Linked DNA regions of Homo sapiens. The protein of the gene in region 3 interacts with the protein of the main gene of each other region in a pairwise test. Each region holds a gene or a part of one and is shown on either strand. Other genes may lie near its edges.

Region 1 (3,500 bases), on a different chromosome or scaffold from region 3:
CATGACGGCTTTTACAAATCATAAGCAAAAACTGCAGTCAGACTCTACTCAGATTTCCCGCCTATGCTCCTAGGACAGAGCTGGAAGGGAAGGAGGCTGGGCCTATTTAGTCATAATGCCTCCCCATCAGGTCTAGCTTTCATTCATCCATGAATCCTCACCCAAGGGCCAAGAACTGAGTTCACTGCACCCTGGACCCCTGTTGAGGTAGGAGAAGTAGACGTTGGGAGCAAGGATCCTCTCCTAATTTTGTTGCATCCCCTCAGTGCCCAGCACAGCTCCGGATACAGGGCAGGTTCACAGTCAGCGTGTTCACCTGGGTCTGTGTATGCACCTAAGAAAAGCCTCAACTCTCCTCCAAGAAACAGAAGAGGCAAAACAAACATAAGACCCCCCAAACTTCCAAACTCACAAGCTAAAGGCTATAAAAAGACTGTTTTCATTTCACTGAGAAACACTTCTTTGATCCAAAACCTATTTTTGTGCCTTTTTTGGGGGGAAATAATTATGCCCAAGGCCTGGGGCAAGCTCAAGCCTGCTGGAGGCAGAGGTGGCCCCAAGGGCAGGGCAGGCAGAGAAAGGCCCATTCTGGGGCTGGCCCTGGGAGGATGTGCAGGGTTTCAACCACCTGCCATTTCCCCAGAAGCAAGAAAGCCTCTGAGGTTGGAGTGAACACTGCATGCATCTACAGTGGAGACCCAATCACCATTACAGACAAAAAGCTCTAGAAACTGCAAAGTTGGGGTTAAGTTAGAGTCTAGGAACTGCAGTCATGCACAGCTGGCGACCAGCCAAAGGCATTTTACTGAGCAATGTTTGACTTTTGTAGGTCCCCCAGCAACATTGAGCACATGGATCTCCCTGGCCAGACAGGGCTGGGGTTTAATGTGGAGCTTTCAATGGATCACAGCAAACACTCTCTCCAAACTCCTTCCTGCATGCTGGCCTCACTCCACTCTCAGGTTCCTAGAACCAATGCCACTCTTCTAGGTCCTGCAGAATCCATGGGCAGGGATGCACGGGTTGTTTCTGAGCAAGCAGCATCTGCGAGGGCCTACCTGAAGGACTCTGGGAGGGACACAAGGGCTTTCCCAGAGGGTAGGTCCCTCCATGTGCCCTGCAGCAGCCACGGTACCTTTTCTACCATATGGGAGTCAGTGGGCTGATGGGCTGGTGATAAGAAACAGGGAGGGGGCGTAATGGTCACAAAAGGAAGGAAACACAAGAGGCCGAAGGAGTCCTCACTAGTGTAAGGGGTGTGGGAGAAGGCAGAGGTCCCTGAAAACAGGGGGATGGATTCATAAACTCTCCTCAAATCCAAGAGAAGCACAGCAAGCCAGGGATCATGGGCTCAGAGGTCAGCCAGGCAGAAGATTCTAGAGTCAGCTCTTGTTCTTGTCTTGAGACCACCAGAGAAATTCAAGGCCGGTGGGTGTGTGGCAGAACCAGAACTGGAACCCATGTCTTCTGCCCCTGAGACCTGCACTCTGTGCCTCCCAGAGCTGCTGTTCCTCCAGTCGGGCTGAAGAACGAAGGCTCAGGTGGCCTGGAAGAAAGTGTTTCATGGTGCCCATGTGAGAAGGCCTGGGCGTCCTACCCTGCTATCTACATCTGTAAAGAAGGGCCAGGCCTCTGACCTCAAGGCGTGCTGTCCTGCAGGCTCTGGGCAGGCACAAGGTCCTCCTCTCACCAGTGGGGCAAGGATGAGACATGCTTATGTGGGATCAGGAACACAGCTATTCAGATCCAATTGGGAGGAGGGTGAGTGCTCCCTTGGGGCTCCTGTGGGAGGAAGGAGCTGCTTCCTCTAAGAGGAGGAGCTTGAATCTGCACCAGAGGCTTGGACCAAAGAACTGACCTACCCATGTGAGCATGCCCCTAGCTGTGCCTCCTGGTGACCCTGCCGAAGTGTCAGCCTGTTAGCCCAGCTCCCAGACCCTGGGCCGAGCAACCTCTGGTCATGGCCGGTGGTGCTGAGCTTGGGGACAGGGCCACACATTTTGGCTCTCTACATACTCTGGATTCTATACAATCACGCTGGCCACACATGACAGACACAAGGCACAACACATCCATTAGGACAGCAAGTCCATGTCACACTGCACAAATTACATATGTCCCACGGCACAGTGGATGCACAGACAGACCAGCGGAGCTGAGGGGCAGGCGCCTCTGTGTCTCTGTGCTTCTTGGCTCCAGCTGGCAGAACGAGGGCTGTGCACTCTGCTTGCCCATTTTCCCAGCATTCCCCCAGAGCCCCATGCATCCATCAGAAGTGAAATCAAGAAGAAATCTGCTTTCAGCATCCTGGGCAGGCCTGCTGGTGCTGCTTGGTCACTCTGGGCATTGGCTGAACTTTCATGGGTATAAATTGTCTATCAAGAGATTATTCACAACCAAACTTAAGGACCCACTAGGCTCACCTCCTGAGCACACACAGATAAAATACAATAAATACAACTGATCCCCTAATGTCTGCCAGGGCCCCTGGTCAGTGGCCGAGCAGCCGCGGCTGCAGGGGAGAGTGGAGCAATGATGCGCCTGGGGACACACAGCGGGGGAGATGGCTTCTGGTGGGGGGCCTGCGGCAGGGCAAGCAGGGCGAGGGTGGGCCTCATTCACATGGGCATCGACATCACAGTATGGGTGGCACTGTACAGCAGGAGCCTCACTCTGGCCGCAGCTACTCAGAAAACGGTGGAAACATGCCCAGGTCGGCAAAGTCTTCGATGTTATAGTTGCCAGTCCCCTGGGTTGGATCTCCTGGCATGGGCAGCATGTCCTGCAGAGGAGAGGAAAAGAGAGCCACAGGGGAGTCAGCTCCTCTGTCCGTGCACTGGGCATGTCCCAGGAGCCCAGTCTGCACTCACCCTCATGGCCATCCCTAAAGGGGCAGCCCAGAGGTCCTCCCCAGCCTTCTGCGGGATGCTCTGCAAGGGTCCTCAAATGTCTGAGACCCGGGGAAACTGTTCTCCCCAGGGAGCTGTTGTGACAGCAGGTAAACGGCATTAGGACATGCCCTTTGTCTATCTAAGGTTGAGTCAGGGACCCAGGGTAGACGAGAACCCCACTGGCGGGGAGACCCCAGGCTGGCCCCAAGCAAGGTGCACCTAACAGATAGCAGATGGCCAAAATATAAGAGAAATGCAACGCAGAGTGGAGTGGAAGGAAGATGTATGTGGAGACCTGGCTGGCCTGTCTTCCATGTTTATCTTAGCGCAGGGACGAATCCCTGAATGGTTAGATTTCAGTTTCAACATGTCTTTCCAGTCCTCTGGGCCTCAGATGACCCATCCAGAAAACGGGAATAGCACTATTTTAGTTTCTTACAGCCAATTCCCCAACATGTGTTCTGTTGAATTCTCAGCCCATGTGATACTCTGTGAGAAAAGAATTCTGTGGACAAATAAGTTTGGGAAACAAGGCACACTTTGCCTACCTCCTAGAAATCCAGTCCTTATTGGTGTAATAAAAGCTCTGATACGTCCTGCAATAAAGAA
Region 2 (3,500 bases), on a different chromosome or scaffold from region 3:
AGATGCGGTATCCCATGGGGAGCAGGCAGTGTCTGAGATAGCTGGTACTAATCACAATAGCAAAATATGGTTACCTTGCAAGAACAAAAAGCATCAAGTATCTTAGCAAACCTTAGGCTTTATAGCCTCTAATTTAGACCAATCAGAATGTTCTAGGAGATTGCCAATCATGGCAATGGCTAAAGTAGAAAATTCTAGGAAGTGAAGTGTGCCTTCTGCCCTTCCAGAAAATACTATCCTGGGAAGTGCCTGCCTTTGCCTTGTGAATTGAGGAGGTGGTGAAATCATGGAAAATGTACAACTCTCAAAAATCAAAATAGGCTAATGTTATAGTGTAATTCTTGGATTTCCATTTTGAAGCAAGCTTTCTTGCTTAAAATTCTTCCAGTGAGTTATTTTTTTGTAAGCAGTTATCACCTTATGTGATTATGAATTAATTTAATTAACATTGACTGGAATCTATTAAAAAATAGAATACATTTCTAAAATATTTAAATTGCAGAAAGGAAAATAAAATTATTTGGAAATTTTAGACCAAAAATTACCTGCTTAAATGGTTAAAAGGGCTCTCTTACCAAAACAAAAACAACAACAAAATAAAAACCAGACTAACAAAACTAAGTAGTCTAGATTCTTCAGATTTGGAAACTTTCTAATCTAGATGATTAAAATGCTAATACATTAAGCAGAGGTGTGTCTTATTCAAAGGTTAAATTCCGATATTTCATATATCCAAAATTACCCTTGAAAATCCCTTAGGAAGCCATACATTAGAATTCAACAATCAGTATTAGAGAATCAGTGTATATTGTTGGTTTGTGTTTAAAAGCTCAGTTATCTTTTAGAATATGTACTTTCTCTTTAAATCCTAGAGTCACACTGCTTATAGAGAAGTGCTCAGACTATGATAGGTATATGGGATTTATGGGTAACTGAGAAACCAGTAAATTCAAATCACTCATGTGATGCTTACTCCAGGGTATATGATTATTGAAAATCAGGCAGAATTGTCAGTACTGCTTACACAAGAAATAGTAACTTTTCTTTCTTTTATTGCCAAGCCTATTAGAGTTGAATTTATAATTAAGTTCATAAAGATACAACTCCACAGTATATGATTATGTTTTTAAAGTTTCACCTGAATTTTTGTATAATGCATTTACCCTTAAAATAGGAAAGCATGATACTATATCATTCCTTTATTCTCTACAGATAATGGATTCTGAATTAATGCATAGTATAGTAGGAAGCTATCATAAACCTCCAGAAAGAGTATTTGTTCCCTCATTCACCCAGAATGAACCATCTCAGAATTGCCATCCTGCAAACTTAGAAGTTACCTCTCCTAAGATACTTCATAGCCCAAATAGCCAAGGTAATGCTGATATAAAATTTGAAGAATGGTAAAAACATGCTATAAAAAACTTTTCATATTTATGTGGAATACAATATGATTGCATATTTAATCTTAACAAAACTCCTAACTTTGATTCTGTTGCTAAAAGTTTCTATGAACTTAGACAAATTACTTGACATTTTTTATTTTGGCTTCTTCAGCCATAAAATGAAGATTAATACAACCAGCTGGACACATATCACAGAGTTATCATAAAAACATCATTTGAAAACAGGAAAATACTCTTTGAAGAATAAAAGGTCAGATTTGGAATACTAAACTAGATGATTAGAATGTTAGTGAATTAAATGGAATTGCATCTTATTCAAGAATTAGATTCAGAAATTACATATATCCAAAATTATTCTTGAAAATATTTTAGGAAGCCAGTATATCAGAGTAACTACAAAATACTAGTATTTTAACGTTTAAAATAGAAATGTAGGAGGATCTTAAAATTGAATTAGGAAAACATTTTATTACTCCAGGCATATTTTAAGCTGTGCAAATTCTTTTCTGAGATGCTGATATCACCTACTTTTAAAATCTTCTATAATAATGGTTGCTGTTAATAAATAAACTAGTTTTGTGGAATAAACTATAAGAAATAATAATGCAAATCAATGTGCCAGCTACAGATATCATGTAAAGAGGAATAAATATAATTTATTTATCTCATTTATAAAAACAAAATGGTAATCTCTAGCAAGCATCTTTCTAATTTGATATAAACTATATGACAGTTAAAACTCTGAACTTATCTGAAGCATGAAGATATTAATATAGTTGAATATAAGTCACAGTAGTATAGAATACTATTATCTTTCAGGTCTGACATCAGGTAAACCATTAGGTTATAATTATCCTGGTTCTTAATACTGCATCATGGACAAAGAAACAGTAAATATGTGTGATTTGACTAAAACGGAATACCTCAAGAACTGAGAAAAAAAGCCTATAACTTTAAACCTAAATTGCCATGTTAATTAGTAGAAATTATATTTTAATGTTCTTATTCATATTTATACTCTTATGCTCCCCAGACTGTACATTGTCTTTAAGTCCTTTCATTTGTAAATATTTTATTAAATTAAAATTGTGGTTATTACCTTTCTCAGTCTTAGAAACCACTAAATACAATAATAGATATAGTGTTTTTACAAGATATATTAGAGAGAAAATGTGCGCCTCTTCAAAGTGTTAGTCATTATTTTTCATTTTTTGAAGAATATGCATTACTTGTACATTTTTCTGGCTCAGTAACAAAAATATACTGCTTATTTTTCTTATGTTACTTTGATTGTAAGTGTTCAGAAACTTTCACTTAAAATATCAACAAAATTTTTTTTCAACAGCTCTTATTTTAGCCTTAAAAACTCTTCAGGAAAAAATTCATCGTTTAGAGCTGGAGAGAACACAAGCTGAAGATAACCTGAACATTCTTTCCAGAGAAGCAGCACAGTATAAGAAGGCCTTAGAGAATGAAACAAATGAGAGAAATCTGGCACACCAGGAGCTGATAAAGCAGAAAAAAGGTAAGAAATGCAGTAGTTCTCAGAAACCGGGGGTTACTGGAGTTTACAGTTCAAAAATAATAAACCTAGTCTAAGCCGATGTACTCAGATATCTTTATTCTTATATATATTCAAACTTCATGACTTTGTTCTCAGACCTTTTGATATTTGTGAGAAAAAGATACAGTTTTGAACTTACCTCTATCATATCTTACTTATCATAATTCATAAATTCTAGAAATTAAAGGAAAAATTAAGATTTTAGACAAGTTGTGTTTAAAAATTAGAATATTTTCAGAATAGCCAACAAACTCCAATTTAACCCGTAATTGAATATTTATTTTTTATTTTATTTATTTGTATTTGCAGTTAACACTAAACTTTAGAATTTGAAATACAGAACAACACTAGTAATTAAACAATGTAAAACCAATAAAAATGAATACAAAAGAATTTTATTTAATGAGAGGAAAGCAAGGTTAATTAGAAGACATAGGCAAATGGGGGAGGCTTCTGTGGAAATTATGAAAAATTTTAGAAATTTAGAACATAAGTCTTTTAAGTAATTTCACTTCAAAACTTAAGACTTT
Region 3 (5,576 bases):
TGATACAGCTGAAAAACACAGTATAAGAATTTAATAATGTAATCACAAGTATTAACAGTAGTACAGACCAAGCTGAGGAAAGAATCTCAGAGCTTGAAGACTGGCTTTCTGAAATAAGACAGTCAGATGAGAATAGAGAAAAAATAACGAAAAGGAATGAACAAAGCCTCCAAGAAATATGGGATTAAAAAAGAGAGCAAATCTACAACTCATTGGTGTCCCTGAAAGAGATGGGGAAAATGGAAGCAACTTGGAAAACGTATTTCAGGATACTATCCATGAGAACTTCCCCAGTCTAGCTAGAGAGGCCAATATTCAAAATCAGGGAATGCAGAGAACCCCTGCAAAATACTTCACAAGATCATCCCCAAAACACATAATCATCAGATTGTCCAGGGTCAAAATGAAAGAAGCTAGAGAGACATAGCAGGTCACCTACAAAGGGAAGCCCATCAGACTAGCAGTGGGCCTCTCAGCAGAAACCCTACAAGCCAGAAGAGATTGGAGGCCTATATTAAACATTCTTTTTTTTTTTTTTTTTTTTTTTTTTTTTGAGATGGAATCTCATTCTGTGGCCCAGGCTGGAGTGCAGTGGTGGGATCTCAGCAGGTCACTGCAACCTCCGCCTCCCAGGTTCAAGCAATTCTCCTGCCTCAGCCTCCCAAGCAGCTGGGACTACAGGCATGCACCACCACGTGCTGCTAATTTTTATATTTTCAGTAGAGACCAGGTTTCACCATGTTGGCCAGGCTGGTCTTGAATTCCTGACCTCAGGTGATCCCCTCCCCTCCCCCCTCCCCCCTCTCCCCCCCCCCCGCCCCCGCCTTAGCCTCCCAAAGTGCTGGGATTACAGGTGTAAGCCACCACTCCTGGCCAATATATTAAACATTTTTAAAGAAATTCCAATCCAGAATTTCACATCTGGCCAACCTAAGCTTCATCAGCAAAGGAGAAATGAGATCGTTTTCAACTTGGGTGTGGTGGCTCAACCTGTAATCCCAGCACTTTAGGAGGCCGAGGTGGGTGGAGTGCCTGAATCCAGGAGTCTGAGACTAGCCTGGGAAACATGGCAAAACCCCATCTCTACCAAAAACATATACATTAGCCGGGTGTGGTGGTACCTGCCTATAGTCCCAGCCAATTGGTAGGCTGAGGCCAGAGAATAGCTTGTGCCAGGGAGGTAGAGGTTGCAGTGAGCCATGATCATGCCACTGCACTCCAGCCTGAGCAACAGAATGAGACCCTGTCTCAAAAAAAAAGAAGAATAAAAAAGATCCTTTCAGACAAGCAAATGCTGAGGGAATTTGTTTACCAGCAGACCTGCTGTACAAGAGCTCCTGAAAGAAGTACTAAATATGAAAAGAAGGCCGGGTGTGGTGGCTCATGCCTGTAATCCCAGCACTTTGGGAGGCTGAGGCAGGCGAATCACCTGAGGTGTGGAGTTCGACACCAGTCTGGCCAACATGGTGTAACTCCATATCTACTAAAAATACAAAAATTAGCCGGTCATGGTGGTGGGTACCTGTAATCCCAGCTACTCGGGAGGCTAAGGCAGGAGAATTGCTTGAGCCAGGGAGGCAGAGGTTGCAGTGAGCAGAGATCATGCCATTGCACTCCAGCCTGGGTGACAGGGCAAGACTCCATCTCAAAAAAAAAAAAAGGCCGGGTGCAGTGGCTCACGCCTGTAATCCCAGCACTTTGGGAGGCCAAGGCAGGTGGATCACGAGGTCAGGTCAGGAGATCGAGACCATCCTGGCTAACATGGTGAAACTCTGTCTCTACTAAAAATACCAAAAAAAAATTAGCTGGGCATGGTGGCATACGCCTGTAGTCCCAGCTACTCGGGAGGCTGAGGCAGGAGAATCACTTGAACCTGGGAGGCAGAGGTTGCAGTGAGCCAAGATCACGCCATGGCACTCCAGCCTGGGCTACCCAGTGAGACTTTGTCTCAAAAAAAAAAAAAAGAAAAAGGAAAGAAAAGGCCATTACTAGCCACTACAAAAACACATTTAAGTACACAGACAAGTAACACTATAAAGCAACCACACAAACAAGTCAGCATAATAAACAGCTAACAACACAATGACAGGATCAAATACATGCATATCAATACTAACCTTGAATGTAAATGGGCTAAATGCCCCAATTAAAAGGCATAGAGTGGCAAGAGCTGGATAAAGAAATAAGACCAAATGATATGCTCCCTTTAAGACACCATTCTTGGCTGGGTGCAGTGGCTCATGCCTGTAATATCCCAGCACTTTGGGAGGCCGAGGCGAGTGGATCACTTGAGGTCAGGAGTTCGAGACCAGCCTGGCCAACATGGTGAAACCTCGTCTCTACTAAAAATAGAAAACCGCCAGGCGTGGTGGCGCGTGCCTGTAATCCCAACTATTTGGGAGGCTGAGGCAGGAGAATTGCTTGAACCTGGGGGACAGAGGTTGCAGTGAGCCGAGATTGCGCCACTGCACTCCAGCCTGGGCAACACAGCAAGACTCTGTCTCAAAAGAAAAAAAAAAGACCCATCTCAGATGCAATAACACCCACAGACTCAAAATGAAGAAATGGAGAAAAATCTACCAAGCAAATAGAAAACAGACAAAAGCAGAGTTGCAATCTTAATTTCAGACAAAACAGACTTTAAGCCAACAAAGATCAAAAAAAGACAAAGAAGTGCATTGCATAATGGTAAGGTATTCAATTCAACAAGATCTAACTAACCTAAATAAATATGCAGCCAACAGCAGCACTCAGATTCATAAAGCAAGTTCTTAGAGACCTACAAAGAGACTTAGACTCCCACACAATAACAGTGGGAGATTTCAACACCCCACTGACAGTATTAGACAGATCACTGGGGCAGAAAATTATCAAAGATATCCAGGACCTTAACTCAGCACTGGATCAACTGGACCTGATAGATATCTACAGAACTCTCCACCCAAAAACGAGAGAATATATCTCATCTGTACATGGTACATACTCTAAAAACCACCACACAATTGGACATAAAATAATCCTCAGCAGATGCAAAAGAACCAAAAGCATACCAGCCACTCTCTCAGACCACAAATCAATAAAAATAGAATTCAAAACTAAGAAAATCACTCAAACCCATACAATTACATGGAAATTAAACAACCTGCTCCCAAATTACTTTTGGGTAAATAATGAAATTAAGGCAGAAGTCAAGAAATTATTTGAAACAAATAAGAACAAAGATACAACAGACCAGAATCTCTGGGACACGGCTAGGGCAGTGTTAAGAGAAATTTACAGCACTACATGCCCACATCAAAAAGTTAGAAAGATCTCAAATTAACAACCTAACATCACAACTAAAAGAACTCACGAAGCAAAAGCCTCCAACTCCAAAGCTAGCAGAAGACAAGAAATAACCAAAGTCACAGCTGAACTCTAGAAGACTGAGACACAAAAACACCATTCAAAACATCAAGTAAGCCAGGAGCTGGTGTTTTAAAAGAATGAATAAGATAGATAGGCTGCTAGCTAGACTATTAAGAAAAGAGAGAAAACCCAAATAAACACAATTAGAAATGACAAAGGGGATATTACCATTGACCCCACAGAACTACAAATAACCCTTAGAGACTATTATTAACACTTCTATGCACACTAACTAGAAAATCTAGAAGAAATGGATAATCTCCCGGACACATATACCCTTCCAAGATGGAACCAGGGAGAAACTGAATCCCTGAACAGACCAATAATGAGCTCCAAAATTGCATCAGTAATAAATAGCCTAACAACCAAAAAAAACCTGGACCAGACGGACTCACAGCTGAATTCTATCAGACGTACAAAGAAGAGCTGGTACCATTCCTACTGAAATGATTCCAAAAAAACGGAGGAGGAGGGACTCCTCCCCTACTCATTCTATGAGGCCAGCATCATCCTGATACCAAAACCTGGCAGAGATACAACAAAAAAAGAAAACTTCAGGCCAATATCCTTGATGAACATTGATGCAAAAATCCTCAACAAAATACTAGTAAACTGAATCCAGCAGTACATCAAAAAGCTAATCCGCCACAATCAAGAAGGCTTTTATCCCTGGGATGCAAGGTTGGTTCAATACATGCAAATCAATAAACATGATTCATCACATAAATAGAACTAAAGACAGAAACTACATGATCATCTCAATAGGTGCAGAAAAGGCTTTTGATAAAATTCAACATCTCTTCATGTTAAAAACTCTCAACAAACTGGAGTTTTTTGGTTTTGTTTTTTGTTTTTTTTTGAAACAGGGTCTTGCTCTGTCGCCCAGGCTGGAGTGCGGTGGCACAATCTGGACTCACTGCAACCTCTACCTCTGGGGCTCAAGTGATCCTCCCACCTCAGCCACCCGAGTAGCTGGGATTACAGGCGCGCATCACCACGCCCGGCTAATTTTCCTATTTTTAGTAGAGCGGGAGCTACCATGCCCAGCCAACTAACTAGGTTTTGAAGGAACATACCTAAAATAATAAGAGCCATCTATGACAAATCCATAGCCAACATCATACTGAATGGGCAAAAGCTGAAAGCGTTCCCCCTGAAAACTGGCACAAGACAAAGATGCCCTCTCTCACCACTCCTATTCAATATAGTATTGGGGGCTGGGCATGGTGGCCGACGCCTGTAATCCCAACACTTAGGGAGGCCGAGGAAGGCAGATCACCTGAGGTCAGGAGTTCGATACCACCCTGACCAACATAGTGAAACCCTGTCTCGACTAAAAATACAAAAATTAGCCGGGCATGGTGGCATGCGTCTGTAATCCCAGCTACTTGGGAGGCTGAGGCTGGAGAAGCACTTGAAGCCCGGAGGTGGAGGTTGCACTGAGCCAAGCATGCCACTTGTACTACAGCCTGGGCTACAAAGTGAGACTCTGTCGAAAAAAAAAAAACACTGCTAAGAGAATAAAAAGATAAGCTACAGACTGGGGGAAAATACTTGCAAATCACCTATCTGACAGAGGACTTCTATCTGGAACACACAAAGAACTATCAAGGCTCAACTATATGAAAATAACCCAATTTAAAAATGCTAAAAAGATGCACAGAGACATTTCTCCAAAGAGGATATACAGATGACAAAGAAACATGTAAAGCAATGCTCAACATTATTAGCCATTAAGAAAATGGAATAGGCCAGGCGTGGTAGCTCACACCTGTAATCCCAGCACTTTGGGAGGCAGAGGCGGGTGGATCATCTGAGGTCAGGAGTTCGAGACCAGCCTGGCCAACATGGTGAAACCCCGTCTCTAGTAAAAATACAAAAATGAGCCAGGCCTGGTGGTGGGTGCCTGTAATCCCAGCTACTCGGGAGGCTGAGGCAGGAGAATCGCTTAAGCCTGGGAGGCAGAGGTTGCAGTGAATGGAGATAGTGCCATTGCACTCCAGCCTGGGCGACAAGAGCGAGACTGTGTCTCAAAAACAAAAACAAAAACAAAACACAAAACTGTGCTGACATACTACTACATACCTATTAGGATGACAAAAATAAAACTACTGACAAAGGATGTGGGGTCATCACAACCCTCATCTGTTGCTGGCGAGAATGCAAAA
Region 4 (3,290 bases), on a different chromosome or scaffold from region 3:
TTGCTGGAGTGGGGTGGAGGCAAAGTGGGTCATGTCTATCGTTTCTAAGGAAAACTTCAATATCACATAAAATTAACTCATGTATAATAATCCCTTTTATAGCAGCTCTCTTAAAGTATCTTTACATATAAGCTCATAAATCCTTTCATTGACTGGGCTTAAGAAACAGTAAAGGATAGACATAGAGAACCTTAGCTACCTCCCCTCCCCCGCCAATAAAAGAGGCTTCTTGCTTACTAGGAATATAAAAGAGTAAATAGGGAATCCCCTTTGTTTGATTTTAAAAGCTTTTGATTTAAAAATACTTTAAAAGTGTTTGTTTTTCTTCCTTTGTAGACCAGGAATGGTTCGCTTTCGAGAAAACTGGCAGAAGAATCTTACTGATGCCAAATATAGTTTCATGGAGTCATTCCCCTTCTTATTCAATCGTGTCTGATACTTACAGGATGTCTTAGGATTGTTTTTCTCATCAGGATACATTAAAAATACAATACAGCACGTCAAACCACAGAATATTTATTGAGTAATAAACTTGTGGCACACAATCCAGCTGTATTTTTTTGCATTCATTCATTTTCCATTCTGCAACCTCCATCACATTAGCAGAGTAACCAGTAAGTTGTTTTCTATTTTCTAAAGTATTTTTTTCTATCACTATATGTATCACTTCTGAGTCTTACAGGTATAGAGCTGAGTTTAGAGAGTTGCTAAAATTCACCTATTGGACCAAACTAAGGTTGGTACTTGGCTGTTTGTTCCCCATCTGAGCCTAAGTCTCCAGCTCAGACACATCTCTTTATGGGCACAACTGGGAACAACAAAATGGCAACAGTTCTACAGCTCATAATATAACCAGTCTGAAGGGTTCCCCTACTCACAGACCCCTTCATTTACTGGGAGTTAAGCCTCACTGCTAAATAATATATTTTGAAACTGGAAAACTGGGCATGCTGCCTTCCACAATACACCACTATACTCATGATTGCAGGAGGGTGGCTTGGGGACTAGGGGCAATGACACGGGAAGGATACAATCATTGCCCTTACTTATCTTTGATCTTCTTCCCATCCTCACACTGAATAATCACTTGTTCCTACCTTCCCTGTGAACCTCTCTTGCCTGGCTGCAAAATTTTAAGACACCAAAGACAAAATTACATTATGCTCTGAGTGATTACTTACAAGTACATCAGAATATTTACTTACATAGAAAAGCACTGGAAAGGAGGAACACAAAATATGAAAGACAATTGATATGGTACTGAAATTTTTCTTTTTTAACTGTTAGATATTTGTGCAATAAATAAAAAAGGAGGGAAAACCACATCAGAGCAATAGGCAAGGAGGTGGCAAACTAGATAAGTCTCCTTGGAGAACAAAAAATATATTTAAAATACAATAGCCCTACTACAACTGATTTATGGCTCAGGTGACTAAACACAATTTGAAGCAGTAACAACACTCATAAGCTGAAAATAAAATACTTTTAGCCCTTTTATTCTTCTTGCCTCTTTCCCAAAGAATATGCCAATGAAGCTGTTCTTGATGTCACAATATTCATATATCGCAGAATTTCTGCATTTAAACTACCTTGCCTACTGAAAATAAGATAATCATTTCATCTCTAGGAACCAGTAACCAAAAAAAAAATGTCCTTAGAGAATACATTTTTATTTGTTTGTTTATTTAGAGACGGAGTCTCATTCTGTCTCCCAGGCCGGAGTGCAGTGGCTTGATCTCGGCTCACTGCAACCTCCACCTCCCAGGTTCAAGCAATTCTCCTGCCTCAGCCTCCCGAGTAGCTGGGACTACAGGCACGTGCCACCATGCCCGGCTACATTTTTTGTATTTTTAGTAGAGATGGGGTTTCACCATGTTAGCCAGGATGGTCTTGATCTCCTGACCTCATGGTCCGCCCACCTCGGCCTCCCAAAGTGCTGGGATTATAGGTGTGAGCCACCACGCCCAGCTGAGAATAAAATTTTTAAGTGGGTATTACAAAATTCAGGTTTTATTATTCAGGGAAGTAGATGGATTGAGACTCAAAACTTTGGGAACTAGTTTCTTTTAACTTTTGAAAACTACAGATTTATTAGGCTAGGCAGCAACTACAATTAGGTATAAATAAACAGAAATCATTTCAAATTCAGGGGTCATTAATGCTGCTACATGCTGACTCTTATTTTCAGTAGTTGCGGGTTAAAAGTAGACATTTCCTGGAACATATATTTAATAGTATTTAAGACTGTTAATACTGTTTAATTATAAAACTTTGGGCCGGGTGTGGTGGCTCACGCCTATAATCCTAGCACTTTGGGAGGCCGAGGCGGGCGGATTGTTTGAGGTCTGGAGTTTGAGACCAGCCTGGGCAATAAGGTGAAACCTTGTCTCTACTAACTATACAAAAATTAGCTGGGCATGGTGGTGCACACTGGTAGTCCCAGCTGCTCGGGAGGCTGAGGTGGAGGATTGCTTGAGCCCAGGAGGTGGAGGTTGCAGTGAGCCGAGATTGCACCACTGAACTCTAGCCTGGGTGACAGAGGGAGACCCTGTCTCAAAAATAATAATAAAAAAACTTTTGCTCTATACTTTGAAATATGACTGCCTTATTTAAACACTTTTGAAAAACAACCACTTAAAAATATAAGGCAAGCGGGCATTTTACAATAGTATAATCAGAATGTCCTTATCACTCAGGTAATTTAAATTTATCATAGGCATGTAATAATAATGCAGATCAAATAACCTTAACAAAAACGGCCAGGCACGGTTGCTCACACCTGTAATCCCAGCATTTCAGGAGGCTGAGGCGGGCAGATCACTTGAGGTCAGGAGTTCGAGACCAGCCTGGCCAAGATGGCGAAACCCCATCTCTATTGAAAATACAAAAATTAGCCAGTTGTGGTGGTGAGTGCCTGTAATCCCAGCTACTTGGGAGGCTGAGGTGGGAGGATCACTTGAACCCAGGAGGCAGAGGTTACAGTGAGCCGAGATCACACCACTGGGCTCCAGCCTGAGTGACAGAGTGAGACTCTATCTCAAAAAACAAAAAACAGAAAACCAACCTTAATGAAAACAGCCAAAACTTCCTGGGTTCCCTCCCCCATTCACTCTTCTGACCTAATTAAAATTGAACGAAATAAACAAAGGAACAAGACCACGATATCATAGTCCCACAATTTTCCATTTCTCCCCAACTTAAAAACAAACAGAAAGGTTTAAGTGTTTAAAATGAAATCTACTTAGTATATGAAAGACAGTTAAAAATATTTAATATCATTTTAGTTTCTC

Evidence for each region. Proteins that work in one complex are often made in the same cells at the same time.
Region 1: the proteins of AP1M1 (region 3) and ARNT2 interact in binary tests that used the Homo sapiens proteins (3 or more experiments, as listed by UniProt).
Region 2: the proteins of AP1M1 (region 3) and CEP57L1 interact in binary tests that used the Homo sapiens proteins (3 or more experiments, as listed by UniProt).
Region 4: the proteins of AP1M1 (region 3) and NKAP interact in binary tests that used the Homo sapiens proteins (3 or more experiments, as listed by UniProt).

Annotation. Positions count from the first base shown.
Region 1 is NC_000015.10:80,592,882-80,596,381, reverse strand, and holds part of ARNT2 (aryl hydrocarbon receptor nuclear translocator 2), read right to left. Parts: intron 2,783-3,500; coding exon 2,684-2,782; 3' UTR 1-2,683. UniProt on the Homo sapiens protein: Transcription factor that plays a role in the development of the hypothalamo-pituitary axis, postnatal brain growth, and visual and renal function. Specifically recognizes the xenobiotic response element (XRE).
Region 2 is NC_000006.12:109,144,007-109,147,506, forward strand, and holds part of CEP57L1 (centrosomal protein CEP57L1), read left to right. Parts: intron 1-1,212; 5' UTR 1,213-1,215; coding exon 1,216-1,375; intron 1,376-2,751; coding exon 2,752-2,931; intron 2,932-3,500. UniProt on the Homo sapiens protein: Centrosomal protein which may be required for microtubule attachment to centrosomes.
Region 3 is NC_000019.10:16,210,441-16,216,016, reverse strand, and holds part of AP1M1 (AP-1 complex subunit mu-1), read right to left. Parts: intron 1-5,576. UniProt on the Homo sapiens protein: Subunit of clathrin-associated adaptor protein complex 1 that plays a role in protein sorting in the trans-Golgi network (TGN) and endosomes.
Region 4 is NC_000023.11:119,920,172-119,923,461, forward strand, and holds the end of NKAP (NF-kappa-B-activating protein), read right to left. Parts: 3' UTR 501-3,290; downstream 1-500. Other genes in the region: AKAP14 (A-kinase anchor protein 14), read left to right, coding at 337-436. UniProt on the Homo sapiens protein: Acts as a transcriptional repressor. Plays a role as a transcriptional corepressor of the Notch-mediated signaling required for T-cell development. Also involved in the TNF and IL-1 induced NF-kappa-B activation.